Linked DNA regions of Homo sapiens: region 1 is linked to region 2. A link means that fine-mapping ties the variant in region 2 to the expression of a gene that starts in the linked region. Tissue or cell type: lymphoblastoid cells. Region 2 holds a variant in brackets; the other region holds the start of a gene. All regions are shown on one strand. Distances are between the middles of the regions.

Region 1 (8,182 bases), 130 kb after region 2:
GGGACAATACACTAGAAGTGTTATCAAGAGATAAATTGCTTTGTAGTTAAAAAGTGAAAACTACAGCCTAAATGAAAGGAAGGGAGAATAAAAGGAAAATCGTTATTTTTTTCAGCTTTCATTATACAAAAGATGTTGCCCCAATTTACCAATGAAAAGACACTGAGGGCCACAGTGGCCCTCTGAGACCCTCTTTCCAGGGTCACATAGCTGAAATATGTGGCCAAAACAGTATCTTTCCCAAGGCTTGTAACTGTAGGCCCTTGTACTACACTGTGCTATACCTGGTAGAAAAGAATATAGATATACAAACTAAAAAACATCACTTATTTTAAAACTTGTTATTTCATGAAATGGCAGACCATAATGATTTGGTGTGGACATTAAACAAAAAGAGTTTATATGCCTCATTAAGATAATTTTCTGGAGCTCTGAATCCATGGTTTATACATAATGGGTTCAGTATATTTTGTTTAGCCACAAAATCACTATTGTTAAATCTTTAATTACTGAAATATGAAGTTACGCAATTTATTTTTGAAGTCTGCGTATGCTACTCACCAAATTTTTGTTGTTTAAAAAATATTGTTTTGCAATTTTCAAAATACATTAGCCTCATAGTGCATATAGCAATCTTAAGACTTTATCAACCTCTGATTTCTAAACACACATCCAATATTCATCACTTTCCTCTGCTGAAATTATTTCCCACTGGTGGAGTACTTTTTTTCTTTCTAGTGCGATGACATGCTACGGCACACCATCTTATTGTTTGTGAAATCAATACTTAAGTTGATTCAGGAAAAGTGTATGAAACGAATTTCAAACATCTTTTAGGGGCAATTCACTACAATTGCCCCTAAAACCAGTTATAAGATAAAACCAGGATTTGGATAACAATGATGGACAATATTGTCATTGTCATCCAAATCTTGGTTTTATCTTATAACTTAATTCAGAATGTTATTTGATGCCTATTTAATGGCTAGGGTTGCTATGTTTCTTAAATACTCATATTGTTTTTCTAACGGTAATACCATAAATCTAAGCCTGTATTTTTCTTTTTACAACTGATATAAAGTGCATTATGATATTTTAACTATTTATCTTCCTCTGAGAACTGCTGGTTCTTCTATGCTGCATAAATATCTCTTAAGGTAATTTGTAACCTAGTATTTTGAAGATTCCAAATACACATTTGAAAATACTATTTTCCTGGATTCTAACTAAGTTGCAATACGTTGAATTAACTCAAAGAAAACAACTCTCCATATGCAATAAGCTATTTGATTATATGATTATCAACACCTATACAAGGGAAGAATAGCGTTAACTGAAAAAATTATTTTTACTAATGGTTGTTTTTTAAATGCTTTTTTGTATGTTGACTTCAATATGGGTTTGTTTGAAATTGTGTAGTTTCACATGTCAGATATAATAAAGCAGCTTCAGTGAAAAGATTCAACCGACGAGAAGCTACAAGTTCCTCAACTTGCCCACATTCGCATTCCCACATTTCCAATTTGTTCCCCCGCTTCTTTAGGCAGTACCTAGCCTCGGCACGGCTGCTTCCTCTTCTTTTTTTTTTTTTTTTTGGCACGGCTGCTTCCTCTTCTTCTTTTCTTTTTTTTTTTTTTTTTTTTTTTTTTTTTTTTTTTTTTTTTTTTGGGACGGAGTCTCACTCTGTCGCCCGGGCTGGAGTCCAGCGACGCGATCTCGGTTCGGTTCACTGCAACCTCCGCCTCCCGGATTCAAGCCATTCTCCTGCCTCAGCCTCCCGAGTAGCTGGGAATACAGGCGCCCGCCATTACGCCCGGCTAATATTTGTATCTTTAGTAGACACGGGGTTTCACTATGTTGGCCAGGCTGGTCTGGAACTCCTGACCTCGTGATTCGCCCCCTTCGGCCTCCCAAACTGCTGGGATTACAGGCGTGAGCCACCGTGCCGGGCCCTCTCTCTTCTATTTAAAAGGATAGGCACAGCCTTTGGAACTGAATGTCTTTCCTCAGGCCTCATAATAGAAAATGAGGAAAGTCCATTCTGACAACTGGCTGCCTTAGGCAACAGAATTTGGGATTCCTACCCTTCCAGCTCCTGTTGAGTCAAAGGCAAAGGCAATAACCCAATAAATGTGGTGAGACAGTAAATGGAAACTGACATAAAAATAGCAATAAAAGCCTACTTCCTTCTTGACAATCAATACATAATGGAATGGGTATGATTTTACACCATAAAACATCAGAGAATAATAGAATATGGGCTGAAGAAAGCTCAGAAGCCACAACATTTTCCCCACCTTTTGATTTTCAAAACGATTCTTAAGATTTGTCGGGAGTATTTGTTTTCAATTGTTTCAGTGAGGCTCAGTTTTGACCACATGCAACCAAAATAGAGAATTTCATGGAGGATGGTCACAGGATTGGCTTAGAAAAATGTAATCCTGTGAGCTGTCCCCTTTCATAAATAATAAGGTTCCGACGGCTGCACCGAATGTTCCTCCTTTCAACGAGGTTGGGCCGAGGTTGGGCTCCCAGCTGCTGGGACATTTTTAGTCCATCTTGGACTCTCACCTCTGCCTCCTGCTCAGCTGTCAGAATGCCAGGCGGCTCTGCAGCCCAAAGCCCACTCCGTTTTAAACTTGCTCGTTTGCAATCACGTAACCCGCTACTGACGACAGAACCCTCAAGGCCCATTTATATGCGGTTCTCAAGTTTAGGTCTAGGGAAGTTTCCAGGAAGCTTAGTGTTCGGGGAGGAATTCGTTTTGCTTTTGCTAATCAAAGAGACACAAAAGCACAGCTGAGTCCCGAAGCTGGCACACGGGAAATCGAGGTACCACTGTCCCCTCACCGGAGCGCGCAACAATCACTTGGGGAGCGGGGAAAAGGTTTCCACCTTCCCCGAGCCTGGGGCACCTTCGCTCCCACCGCCCCAGCTGGTGGTGGTCTCGACACCACGCTCGTTGCGGGGTCACACGCCAGAGCTGGAAAGGGGAGGTCCAGCCCCAAGTAAAGCGACAAAGTAAGGACACAGTGGTGGCCAAGGGCTGTCTCCTAACCCCAGTCCCGAAAGACAGTGTGGAAAGTCCGCCGGCGCGCCAGCCCTTGAAACTCTGCCGGTCCGGCCGCGGCCCCTCCCCTGCGCGTCCCCACCTGTTGTGAAGCTGCCCAAGCTCCTTCTTGCCCAAATGCTTTGGAAACTGCCAAAGGACACTCAGAGGCCAGGGAATGTAACAGGCAAGCATAAATATGCAGAAGAGATGGAACCAAAATAGCGGGCAGGCAGGGCCGGCGCTCGTGGGGGTCGGTGATCTGGAGCCGGGCCCCCGCCGCCGCGGCCGCGCCAGCAGTGCCAAGACCTGGCGGGCGGCGCCGGCGCACTCCGGGCACCGAGTCTGCAAAAGAGGCCCTGAGCGGACCGCCGGACACCTCGCAGACTGCGGGCAGCGGTGGTGGCGGCCGCCTCTCCGGGGCTCCACGGCCGACCCGCCGCCCGCCGCCGCCATCCCCGGCCCGCTCCTGCCGGGTCCCCGACTCGAGCCCCGGAGGCGCCCGCTCTGCGGGACCGCGCAGCCCGGCTGCATGGAGCCCGGCGCGGTGCCCCGGCCGGCCGAGCCAGCCACGGCGCGAGAAACCGTCGCCCGCCACGGCGAGGGCAGGAAGAAGATGGCGGCTACCGTGGCGGCGGCGGCGGCGGCAGCGGCCTCACACGCGTCGCTGACGCCAATGGCTCGCGCCGGTCGGCGGGCCGCGGATGGCGGCGGCGGCGGCGGCGGCTCGGGCTCCGGCGAGGGGCGGGGCGAGGCGGGGAGGGGGCCGGCCGGAGGCAGAGGCTGGAGGGAGGCGGCGGGGACAGTTTGTTGTGCTCGGAACATGGCGGGCGTCGGCGACGCGGCCGCTCCGGGAGAAGGCGGCGGTGGCGGCGTGGACGGCCCGCAGCGGGACGGCCGCGGCGAGGCGGAGCAGCCGGGCGGCAGCGGCGGACAGGGGCCCCCGCCGGCGCCTCAGCTCACAGAGACGCTGGGCTTCTACGAGAGCGACCGGCGGCGGGAGAGGCGCCGGGGCCGCACAGGTGAGGCGGGCGGCGCTAGGCCGTGGCGGGCTCCGAGGGGCGGACTGGGGACCGAGGGCGGCGGGGGCGCCTTGGAACCCCGGCCCCCGAGCCGCGCGGCTGCCGTTGCCTCCCGGGGCTCCCCAGGCTGTGGGCGCGCGGAGCCGCCGAGGCTGCCGAGGCTCCGCGGCCGTTGACAGTTCCTCGGGCGGGTTGCGCGCGCAGCCCCGAGGCCCCCGCGGCCGCGCCAGGCCAGGTGTGCCCTAGAAGGGGTCTGCGGCCGGGAAAGTTCTGTCCGGGTCCTTGCATCGCCCTCGGAAGGTCTTAGGTTAGCGGGCATCTCCCACGTCTCGGAGCCCAAACGTGAGAAGCACACGGCTGATTTCTTAATTATATTCATGCCAAGGTGACTTTTTTTGTTCTGTATTTTAAGCAAACTTGAGCCATAGAAACCTGTTAACTTGCCCTGCAAGTAGATTTTTCACAGACAGCTGACGGTGTGGTAGTGACCATGAAGTTCAGTAGTTTTGCCCAGTACAGAAATATTTAACACTCCATAAAATGTTGCATCTGAACTTTTCCTGAACTGAAACTTATGCCAAAAAAATTACTAGATGAGAAAATGTGTACTTATGAATCCTACATTCAATGACCAGTTTTAAACGTATTGTTACAATGTTACAGTTTCTATAAGCTGTAGGTTTTTATTCTCATTTTAAAAGAATTTTTAAAACTTGCATTTGTATTCATATTGCAGTTACAGATTAGTTTTAAATGAAAAAAGGTTTTGAGATGGATGTCTTCTTGAATATAGAGTGAACCCAACGTTTTAATTCTCAAGCTGTAAACAGCAACTGAACCATAACTCCATTAAATTTCTTCCAACTAAAAAATTACTTCTGTTGTCCAAAAGGGGCTGTGTTAGCCGTTATTTCCTGAAGTTCATGCAAATAACTAAGTTGTGAGGCTGATTACATCATTGATTGTACTTGAGTACTGAAATTTTAAAACTACTTAAGGGGCATAAAGTTGATCAGATGCGATTCTAATTGATTTGCTGATTCCCAGAACTGGACGTAGGTTCTATTTGAAGCAGTCTATATTTTTGGAAAATTACAGACGGTCTTGTTTGGTCTTTTTCAATTAACCACTTAAAAATTCTCAACCATACTTTATTTGGTTTAGTTCTCAGTTAAACATTTGCTTTCAAGAGTATTTACTTTCTTCATTGGCAGGATCTCAGTAAGACAAAATAGCAAATCTCTCAACTGTCTGTTTACTTACTTAGACTTGAATATTAAAAGCACTCTGTTGTAAATAGAGATAGATGTAGCCAGGCTTCACTATACTTTCTTTAAAACATTTCTCAGTTGCAGGAAAGCCACCATTTTAAAAGCCTTTTTTTGTTGTTTGCGTGGAGAGGAAATGAAGTTGTTTGAAGCCTATTGATGAGCACAGATCTTGAGCTTGCAGTATCACTTAACACTTCTTCCCTGGCTTTTTCTGGGACTGGATACCTGGACTTCCATGGACTTCATTATACCACGTATCCATTCTTCACCAACATGGTTCACCATGTTTAAGGCTGGATTTTTTTTAACCCATAGTTGCAGGAAGTCATTATCAGGGAGATGCCTCCAGGTTTAGCTGTTGGGGTAGTCCTTGTTCTTTCCCCAGTTCCATTGATTTTGTGTGAGGAGATGTCAGTGGCCACTCCTGCTTTACCAAGTCACACTAGCCTTGGCGATCAGGATTTAGGTGAGAATTCCAAATTCCAGGAGTATTTCAGCTGGAGCCACTGGCCAGTGTTCTCTCTGAGCCTCCACATAAGCCCCTCCTTCTTTTCCCCTGGTGTCCCTGCTCTGCTAGTCACATAGCTCCTGCCACTGCTAGCACCCAGTCTGTAGCTCCGATAACCATATTTGTTAGAGGTTTCCCCACTAGAAACAATTATTTTAGTCCTTCTTCAATGCCCAGGCTGCTAAGTCTAGCGCTGCCCTCTTCCCCTGCTCTGTAATCCTTCCTTCCCCTCCTTTTAAGAATTTTTAAAAACGATTCCCTAGGAGCTGGCCTGGGTCAGAGGGCCTTTGAGTGGCAGCACCTGGAGTCATTTGGATAGCATTTCTCCCTGAATCAAACTAGTCCTCCACGGCTAGATGCTCGGACTTAAGGTATTACTTGTTGATTTTTTTATATTCTTGTGTGCCTCTGAGAGTCTAGCACCACTGCCCTTGAGATCTAGATCCCCCTGCAAGTTAAGGCAACCTTTGGCTTTTCTTTTTGAAAGTCATAATCTTAGTGTCTTGGTGGCTGAACCATCAGTCAGTTCCAAAGTTCCCTTTATCATTTCTCACAAGGAATTTAGGGCTCCTACAGGTAAGACATTTGTTGATCAGTCCCAACAGCCTAGAATTCCCTAAATGAATGTACATATTAGGTACTTATCCAAACTCTTTCCATCTGAATAAAATAAAACGTGGTGTCTGAGGTTCATTTTTTGTTTTATATCTCTCCTTGTTGATTTATATGTTTAGAAACTAGATATGTATATTTGTCTGTATGAATAGCTGTATATGCTCTATATTGTATTATACTAAACATGTGTCTCCATTAAGTCTAAGCTTTCTTTTCCTCATCACTTCGTTCTCAGAACTCCCGTTCTGACTTATATTTAGCCTGGCAATAGGCTGACGCATGTCTCAGATGCGAGTACTTACACCTTTTAACATAGTTAGAATTGGGAATCCCACTCATCATTCCTGTTTTTATTTGCTCTCTCAGAATGGTCATTGTGTATTTCCTTGTTGCATATGTGGTTACTGGCCTTGAACTCTGGATGTAGTGGTTATCAAGAACTGCAGATTGATCTCTTCTGTATTTTCTTCCTGTCCTTGAAAATACTACCAACTTCTGTTGTTCCTTTTGACATAAAACCAAATAATCAATGTTATGTTTTTGTGCTTGTTCCCCACTTGATTCATCTGCAGAAGTCCTAGGTAGGAGAGTTTCTGTATAGCCATATTTTTATTTAGGAATCTAAGTACAGCAAATCAACTTTGGACTAAGCATTAGGAAATCTGTGTTTTTGGCTTGGTTGGGTTGTTGAATTGCTTTGTAAACTCTGTGCTTGCTTAGACTGCTTGCCTAATCAGTTTGGTTCTGTTTCATAATGCCACTACTAGATAGTTCAGTATCTGAAGCATCTAGGTTGCTTCTAGTCACCATGGAGACTTAACAGAAGGCTTGGTGTAAATAAGGGTAGCACCTGTGAGGGTAGCACAGGTGAAACAGTACCTGTGTAATGCAGGTGTTGGAGATGCATGGGGATAGGTATTGCTTGTAAAACAAGAAAGCCTGAAGTCGGGTATAGGTGAACATATTGTTTCTACTGGTAACAGTGCCATGGACCCATTTCTTTCTTCTTTAACAGTGACTCTGGACTTCTAAAACTTCAACTTATTATCCATCTCTTTTGCCTCTCTCCTCTCCCTTTAACCATGGTTAGACCTCTTCTTGCTTCACCTCTGTTAGAGATTGAGCAGAGGCAGGAAGAATGAAACCCAGAAAAGTCAACTGAATTTTTAGCAATACCCTTAAAAGATTTCGAGTGGGACGAAGGTTTTAACTATTCATATTACCTATGTCTTATTCTTTGTGTAACTGAAAATTTGTCAGTTTCTTCTTACAAATACATTTTTATTAAAATATGTTTTCATTTAACCAGTCTTCACCTATATCACATAGTTATCCCAGTGGCCCCAAACTTAACCAAATGGATGATTAAAGGGTGACTGATTCTAAAATTATGATCTAGAGCCAATTAATTTGTTCACAAAGAAAAATAAAAATAATAAAACCGGGAAATTACTTGGAGTAACCACAAACCAGATACAAAGTAAAATTAGCTACTTCTGACAAACTATTGCTTTGCTTTTAAAATTCTCACTTGCTTTACTTAATTAGTATATATAGACCAAACGAACAATGAAAAGTTACTTATTTTGGTTTTTGATCAGTTCAGTGTCTTGGCTTTTGACAGTTTTTAACTTTAACTTAGTTTACGCTCTGAAATTCAATCCTAGCAGCTCATTTGTGCTCCAATTTGGGGACTACTTGCATAAAAGAAGTCTCT
Region 2 (8,182 bases):
CTGCTCCTTAATCATGGGGCCAAAAAATTGCTGGCATGAAGGTGATCTTTCAGAATATCTTGATAGTTCTACGTCCTATAAATGGGCAAATACAACAACCATCGTCCTGTGGAACTATATCCTATATCCTCTGGAGGAAAGACCTCAGCTAATGACTGACTGACATGGGTGTACAAAAGACTAAGCACCCCTTGACTCAAGGTAAGACTAACTCTGCTATGTTATTTGTGCTTCAGAGCTTCCCCATGGGAACAAACTAAGGCTAGCCTCCAGTTGAGGCCCCATTCTTACTTAGCTTTTATTCCCTCCCTATTCTGCTTCCTTCATTCCCCTCTTCTACGACCATTTCCTGGAAAAAATTACTTGAACAAAGATACCTGTTTCAGCAGCTCCTAAGGAATTTTACCTAAATGACAGAGAGTTTTAATGGTTTTGTTTACTGATATTTCAAAGGTTCTAGAAAGCATGGGACACAATGGGCCCCAGATAATATTGTTGAATAAAAGTTTAAACCATATCATACTGAATTGTCATGCTGGGTTTAGTTGCCATCATTTATTCATTTAGTAATTTCTTTTACTCACATAATTGGCTTTTATCTAGTGCTTCCTATGTTTTAGGCTTCATGCCAAGTGTTGGAGATACAAAAAACAACGTAAGTCTGTGCTCCAGTTCTGACGGCACTGTCAGCCTTGTCATGTAGACATATCGATAAACTGACTCACTTGAGTACGAGATAACGAATGCTAATGTTATGGATTTAACTGTATGCCCTCAAAATTCATAGGTTCTATATTTTGAGATAGGACCTTTAGGGAGGTAATTAATGTTAAATTAGGTTATTAGAGAAAGGCCTTAAATCAATAGAGTTGGTATACTTTTCAGAAGAGGAGGAGGCACCAGAGCTCGCTTGTGCTCTCTCTCTCTCGTTCTCTTTCTGCATGTGCACAGGGGTAAGACCATATGAGAACACAGTGAGACAGTTGCCATCTGCAACCCAAGGAGAGAGGCCAACCTTTGTTGGCACCTTGATCTAAAAATCAACCGTGTTGGTACCTTGATCTTGGGTTTCCAGCCTCCAAAACTGTAAGAAAATTAACTCCTGTTGTTTAAGCCGTCCAGCCAGACAACCAGAAACATCCAAGACCAGAGACTTGGGGCAGCCCAAGAAGACTGATATAGCTACTATACAGTGAGGGCCCGTATCTTCCATGTCTTTGCCCTGAAAGAGAAACACAGATGCTGGCACACAGTGGGCACTCAATAAATAAATAAATCACTTGAAAAAATTTCTCACAGCCTTATGCAATGCTGAGACCTGATTAGATCTTGTCAAGCACAACATCTCTCGCCTTCCATACCTCCCTCTCCCTAGCACTGTTTCAATTCTCCAACTCATGCTGGGAAAGCCATTCCATTCCTCTTTGGCTAATAAACTCCTGTTCACCCCTGGAGCATTCTCTGATCCTATTCCACCCTGAGATCCAATAGGTGCCTTCTCCAACCCGCTGGGTCTGCCTCTTCCATTGCATTCAGAATTTTGTACCACGATTTTGTGTCCATCTGTCTATCTTTTCTATGACTTAATAATATATCAGGAACTGTGTACCCAGAACTTATCAACTGGTTTTTTTAACATCCAAAGGAGGATTGGTGTATAGAAAAAAAAAAATTACCATGACTTGGGTTTTTATTGATAGTAATTTACTTACTTTTTTAAATTTTAAAATCTGTCATTCCTTTAGCCTTTAAATTCAACTTTCAAGTCCAGTATATTTGCTTATAAATTTAACAATTGGGAGTGAAAATTAAAAACATTCTCATTCTTTAATTTCTGCTAATTTATAGCATAAATTTCACAGATTAATTTTTCCTAAGCATTATTTTCAAACTTCAACAAATTTTTTCAGACATATCAAATTAAAGTCATAAAGCTTATAAACAACAAATTAAAATCTCTCATACTATCTAAAACTTAATTAAGTTTCCTTAAACATGTCAAACTATGATCATAAATTGAATATATTTTATTTTCTCAAGCTAACTCTTCCAACTTTAATAAATATGAATTTATCAAATTAGTAGATCAGATACAGGTAAGCATTTCAATATCTTCAAAAGCAATATATAAATTTGGTAACTTCAGTTCTCTTAAGCTTTAAGCAAATGTAATTAAATAAAACCATCTTACAATTTAAATTAAAATCTTAAGCCAGATTCTCTAGAATGTCATTATATCTTAAATGTTTCAAACATCCTACCAAGTTTATCCAAACAACACAATGAATACAAAAGTTTTCATTACACTTGTATAATCACAATTTACATGAAGTTTTAAACACCAAATTTATTTTTTATCATCTCTATGCTTATATTTTGTACTTTCCTGTAGTTACAAAGTCACTTATCCAACCAAACAGAATAGAATTACCATCTCAGCCCTACTTTAGCAAATGAAATTACAGATTCAATGTTGTCAGAGATTTGAGACACAGGTTGCACATTCAAGGGATTTGTGAAAGACTTGGGAACACATAACCTAAATCAAACTGAGAGGAAACAGCCAGAAAAACACAAATTAACAGACATTCTACAAAACAACAGACTGTACCCTACAAAAATGTCAATGTCATTAAAAAAAAGAGAGAGAGAAAGAAGGCCAAATAGACATAATGACTACAAGCAATGCATAATCCTGAATTGGATTCTGGATTAGGGAGAAAAATCATAGCCAAAAAGGCAGCATTGGGACAATTAACAACATTTGAATGCAGACTATATATTGGATATCAGTTTTAATAAATGTAAACTTCCTGAGTTTGATAATTGCATTGTGATTATATTGGAAAATGTCACTTTCTTTAGGGTAGTGACATTGAAATATTTGGAGTGAAATGTAAGATCTCCACAAATGGTTCAGCAAAAGATAAAAATAAGAATAGTGAAAGGAATAACAATGTGAGCACATTTGTGTGTAGAGAGGAAGATAGAGCAAACATGTGGCACAAATGTTAACAGTAGGTAAATCTAGATGAAGGGTAGGTTCTTGCAACTTTGCTACAGTTGTTTTTACAAAATAAAAAGTTAATTAAAAACAAAATTAAAGATTAAAAGTAAGATTTTGAATGGGATTATGCAAATTTGGATGTCACTTCAAGAGAATAAACTTGGGCGATAGATTATTTTATGCAACAGAAAACCACTGGCAAATTTAAACCATAAACTGCTCTACCATTAGGATACTGGATTCTTTAGAGCTGAAGGAATATTGGGAAACCAGCTTCAGAGGCTGTGCTTGTAGGGAAAATGGCAAAATTCAACTTCCTTGCGGGAGGACAACACTGTGTCATTGCTGAGATGAGGCATGGCAGGGTGCACCACCAGTACTGCCTGATAGATGCAGACAGTGAAACCATCACCATGGCCACTGCTCCTCTAGAAGCTGGATGCTGCTGTTGTAGCTGTTGCCACGTGCTACCAGAATGAATTATCTGCTTTTCTTCGCATCGGTAGCTCACAATTCACAGCCTAAGGCACCTGTATCTGATTACCCGAGTCCAAGGCACATACCAAAGCATTGGCTGCATGGAAGCTAGGAAAGTCAGAATCTGAATTTCAGGGTCTGTAATGTCATCAAGTCTCTGTCCACTGTCATCAAGTCTCCTAAGGGATGGGCTTCCTAAAGGAAATGGATTCCTTGATGGGGAAAAATAAGAAAAAGGATACACATCTAAGATACACAGAGGACCTCTCTAAAATGGGCCCACTGTATCTAAGGGGCCACCATAGCCAAGCCTTTCATCTGGGATTTGACTTTGCCATCCCAGTATCACCTCACCCCTTTCCTAAGACAACCTCTTTCAATTCTCATCATTGATGGAGTACACAGAAGTCTGCTTTCAACAAAATATTTTATTGGCTAATTGTTGAATTATTTGACCCTTTACACCCCCTTACCCTTTCACCACCCTAGTCAGGATTGTGACTGATGTCTCCTGGTTATGAATTGTTGTGGGACATTCCCCAGCCTTGTTTCCACTTTCTTATTCATCTATTGCTCATTATTTAGTAAGCATCTACTGTCAGGACCCAGTGCAGGACCCAGAAGGTGGTGAGCGCTCCAGCGTGAGGACTGGTAAATGAACACATGAAGGAATGGCTAAGTAGTAAATGGATAAATAAATTGATGGATACTATAAAAATTACCTCCCTGGCTACACAAATGACATATAAAGCACACAAATCCTGACCCATAACCACAGACACAATTGCAATCTATTCCTTGGAAAATCTTGGCTGTGTTGAAACATGAGAGTTGATTTCCTAAGGCTGCTGTGTCCACTGGGTAGTGGGGGGCTGCAGAAGGGGTGGACTCTGTTCCTACCTGTGTGTGGGAGGAGAGAGGTCTCTTCTGTGTCATAAGAGATGGCAGGGCCAGCTATAGATCCATTCCTACAGCAGCATAGAGTAGGTTCTTTCCATCCTGGGGCCACCACATCCACTCCTTAGAAGGGATAACAAGCGACTAACTTTGCTCATGGCTCTGAAACCCCACCCAGACACTGAACTACGAAAACAAACTGGTTCATTCACAGATTCTAATTTTTTAAGAGAGATGAGTAGGACACAATGAGTTGATCATCAGTGTTCAGAATCGACAAAGAGAAGCCAGTCGCAGGGCAAGTTCCCCAGCCATCCCATATTTTCTCTCTTTTTCTTGGCCTTCCTTCTGCAGCCAGGGACCTTGAAGCCCAAAGGCTGAAAAGCCTATTATCACCAGATAGAAATGTAAGTAAACAAGGCATCACAATAATGAATGCTAAAGCAGAAGGCAAGAATGGGGGGAAGGACCTCTT[C/T]GCTGCAAAGGATTGGGCTGGAACTGGGCCATTTTCCAACTACCATAATAATAGAGGGCTTTTGTTGGTTTCTAGACATGTAAGTCAAAAAGGATACTTCAAGACAAGAATGGAAGGAGGAAACGGTTTCTTCACCATTGACCCTCAATCTGCATTCCAAAATTGGCTTCAAGGCTAAGAAGCTCTAATCCTTCAACCAAACAGAGGGAGCTAAAAAGAATGGATTTGAAAAGACCACAGGAAATAAGAGTGGCTATAGCACTCGGGACATAGCCCTAGTCAAAGGATTTGCGGACGTTAAAAGGAGACAAAAAGGAAGAGTCAAAAGATTATCTGCAGAATATGTATGAAACACAAGGCTGAGACCAACTGAATTACTGCCCTTATTTCTCTCCCTCTCTGTGGATGTTTTAGACACCAAATCTGGGATTCCAGAGGCTGCAGCTGATATGATTGGAAATGCCGTGCATCTGTTTGTGAACTTCGAGTCTAAATTGTATTAGCGTTAAGTGATAGGGACCCCGTTTGCAATTTGATAAGCAGGAGCCGACTGTTTCTGATGTTTTACTAACAATTTGGGTAAATACACTGAAACCAATATGTTCAGCCAGGTGTTGAACGCATTTAGCCCAGCGTGGAATGGGTCTGCACAAATCTGTATCCCCAGATGGAAGAAGCCGAGTTACAAATTAGTGCAATTCAAACAGAAGAGGTTTGACCAAGGGAGAGCTTAAAGAGATCAAAGGAAAAGCAGAGGGAAATTGGATACAGTTGCATGCCAGTTCATTAGGAGGCAAAGGGGACTTAATTATTTTTTATTCCAGTTTTTTCTTTTTTTTCTCAAAGAATTGGGTTAATGCTCTTACTATTTCAGTTTGGCCTTAAACTTCCCAAAATTATAAGGAAGCGCTGTGTCACAGTAACGTGTTAAATACTAAAGAATTTTATTCTATCATTATTAATCTGGAACCAGGCATGAAATTCCAAGTGTATTCAAAATCAGAACCCAATTTTTAAAAGGAGTATCTACATTTAAGTGTCATCAAAGAGATCTGTTTACATAGTGTGCCATAATTTTTAGGATTTCCATTTATTTCTTTTTATTTCCTCTAAAGAATAAATTATTTTAAAGTTATAATTAACTAACACAATAGCTTTTTAATTATTCTCCTATTATATCATTTTATCTCTCTCTGTAGACATGTAAAATCATAATGATTTAGTTGTTTACCTCCCTGGTTGGGGGTCTTGCCCAGAAATAGAATGATAATTAGTTTTTAAAAAGAAGAATTGGAATCATGGACTGTGTCAATGGTGAGTTGTCAACCATAATCCGTGTATAAAGGACAAAGAGACAAGACTATCCAGGCAGTATGTTAACATTATTTACAATGTCCCTAAAATTCAATTTGTAACCAAACAGCATGGTGCTGTTCAACTCCCTTGAAGTGGGATTCTAGAATGGAGGAGAGAGGCTAGCAGACAGGAACTATGTAACATGGGAACTAAATAAAAGTGCAGACATGGACTCAAAGAGGAAGTGGTAACATCCAGAAGAGTGGAATCCATAGCAAAAGACCTAAGATGGGTGCTGGCTGCAAATTCAGAAAAATTAGGAGTAATATTAGGTCTTTTGAGGAAAGTCTGAGAACTTTATTTGCAAGGTGCTCAAAAGAATCCTGTGGGAAGAAACTCATGCTAAGGAAGAGGCCTCACGAGGAAAGAGAAGGGAGGTTAGAGATGGGGTCAGAAAGACAAAGAGGAGACAATATCCGCCTTGTAGGATGGAGCTGGGAGTCTGGATTTTATTCCAAGGTCAATGGCACACCTGTGTGTGTATTACCAATTGAAATGCTACCAGGTGCTAGACCTGTTCCAGATGCTGAAGATACAGCAGGAACACACCTTCTGGTCTCTCGAGCTCAATTCTAGGAGGAGGAAGCAACACATAAATGAACAAACAGGGTAATGCTATAGGTTTTACAAAGAATTAAAAACAGACTGATGTGATAGAGAGACTTGGGGCTACCTTTTTACACTGAGTGATCGAGGAAGTCTCTCTGAAGAGTTAAGTTAAGAAAATTATAATGAGCCACATTTGCATATGATTTACCACGGACAAGCCCCCTGCTAAGTACTTACAAACTTTAAAGTTGTTGAGGGAAACTGAGGCAAAGGTAATTTAAGAAACTTATCTAATGTCCCTTGCTGAAAATTGTTGAATTTTAATCCAAGAAATCTGACTCCAAATCCCTCATTGCTTACCAGTATATTCTAAGTGACATTGCCTGAATGAGAAGAGATGAGGATTATCAGGAGAAGCAAGTCATGGGAGTCACTGGGGAAAGAGTAGTCCAGGCAGACAGAGGAGTAAGAAACAGCAAGAAGGCAAAGAGGTCTGGAACAGTGAATCAGGGGAGGGAGGAACAGGAGCAAAGTCTGAGAGACAAACAGAGGGCAGAACACATAGGGCCTTGGAAACCAAAAGAAGCATTTCTTCTAAGGGAGACGGGGTTTTTTTTGTTTTGGTTTGGTTTGGTTTGGTTTTTTGAGACGGAGTCTCGCTCTGTTGCCCAGGCTGGAGTGCAGTAGCATGATCTTGGCTCACTGCAACCTCCACCTCCCAGGTTCAAGTGATTCTTCTGCCTCAGCCTCCCGAGTAGCTGGGAGGTGCACACCATCACACCCGGCTAATTTTTGTATTTTTAGTAGAGACAGGGTTTCACCATATTGGCCAGGCTGGTCTCAAACTTCTGACCTCGTGATCTACCCGCCTTGGCCTCTCAAACTGCTGGGATTACAGGCTTGAGCCACTGCACCTGGCCATAGATGGGGGATTTTAAGCAGGGGAAAGGTGTGATCTCTTTGGAGTTTGCAAAATACTACCTTGGCAGCTGGGTGAACAATGGAATGCAAAGAGAGAGAGCCAAAGTGTTAGCAGAAGGAAGAATTTTAAGGAAGTGCAAGAGAGAAATGCTGCTGGCTTGTATGATCATGGCCAAGACTGACTTGAAAAGAGGTAGTGACAGGGTAACTTGGAGATGGAGCTGGCAAGGCATACTGCTGGAATGAATAAAAGGCATGTTGGAAAGAAAGGAAGTAAGAATGACCATTATGTTTTTATCTTGAGCAACTGGGTGAATGAATGATGAATGGTAGTGCCCTTTGCTCAGATTGGCTAGGTGGGGAAGTGATGGAAGGAAGAGGGGATCAATGTTGTGATAAGGAAAGTGGAAATAGAGCAGGGTAATGTAAGCTGGCACGGGTATCAGAGGAGGAAATGACTTTTAACGTAACACCTTAGGTCATTCACACATTCCTAAAGG

Which allele goes with the higher level. Positions count from the first base shown, and alleles are read on the strand shown. Sizes are in standard deviations (SD) of each study's normalised expression.
In carriers of allele C in region 2, the expression in lymphoblastoid cells of the gene that starts at base 3,667 in region 1 tends to be higher than with T alone (small effect, 0.37 SD a copy in GTEx).

What was found. PIP is the estimated chance that this variant, and not a neighbour inherited with it, causes the effect.
Region 1: it holds the start of TAPT1-AS1, and the variant in region 2 is fine-mapped to the expression of TAPT1-AS1 in lymphoblastoid cells (GTEx, PIP above 0.99).

What each region holds. Positions count from the first base shown.
Region 1 is chr4:16,222,148-16,230,329 of GRCh38, reverse strand. It overlaps TAPT1-AS1 (TAPT1 antisense RNA 1), which reads right to left and starts at 3,667. Exons shown (of 3, transcript NR_027697.1): 1 at 3,153-3,667. TAPT1 (transmembrane anterior posterior transformation 1) reads left to right here and starts at 3,859. Exons shown (of 14, transcript NM_153365.3): 1 at 3,859-4,071. The coding sequence starts at 3,873. RefSeq lists an enhancer at 2,747-2,806 and silencers at 3,317-3,516, 3,577-3,646, 3,657-3,756, 3,767-3,816, 3,927-4,306.
Region 2 is chr4:16,348,660-16,356,841 of GRCh38, reverse strand. It overlaps LOC124900674 (a long non-coding RNA gene), which reads right to left. Exons shown (of 5, transcript XR_007058064.1): 5 at 1-1,222. Among named protein-coding and RNA genes, the nearest start is that of TAPT1-AS1, 130 kb to the right of the region's middle. The variant C/T (reference allele first, on the strand shown) is at 4,857.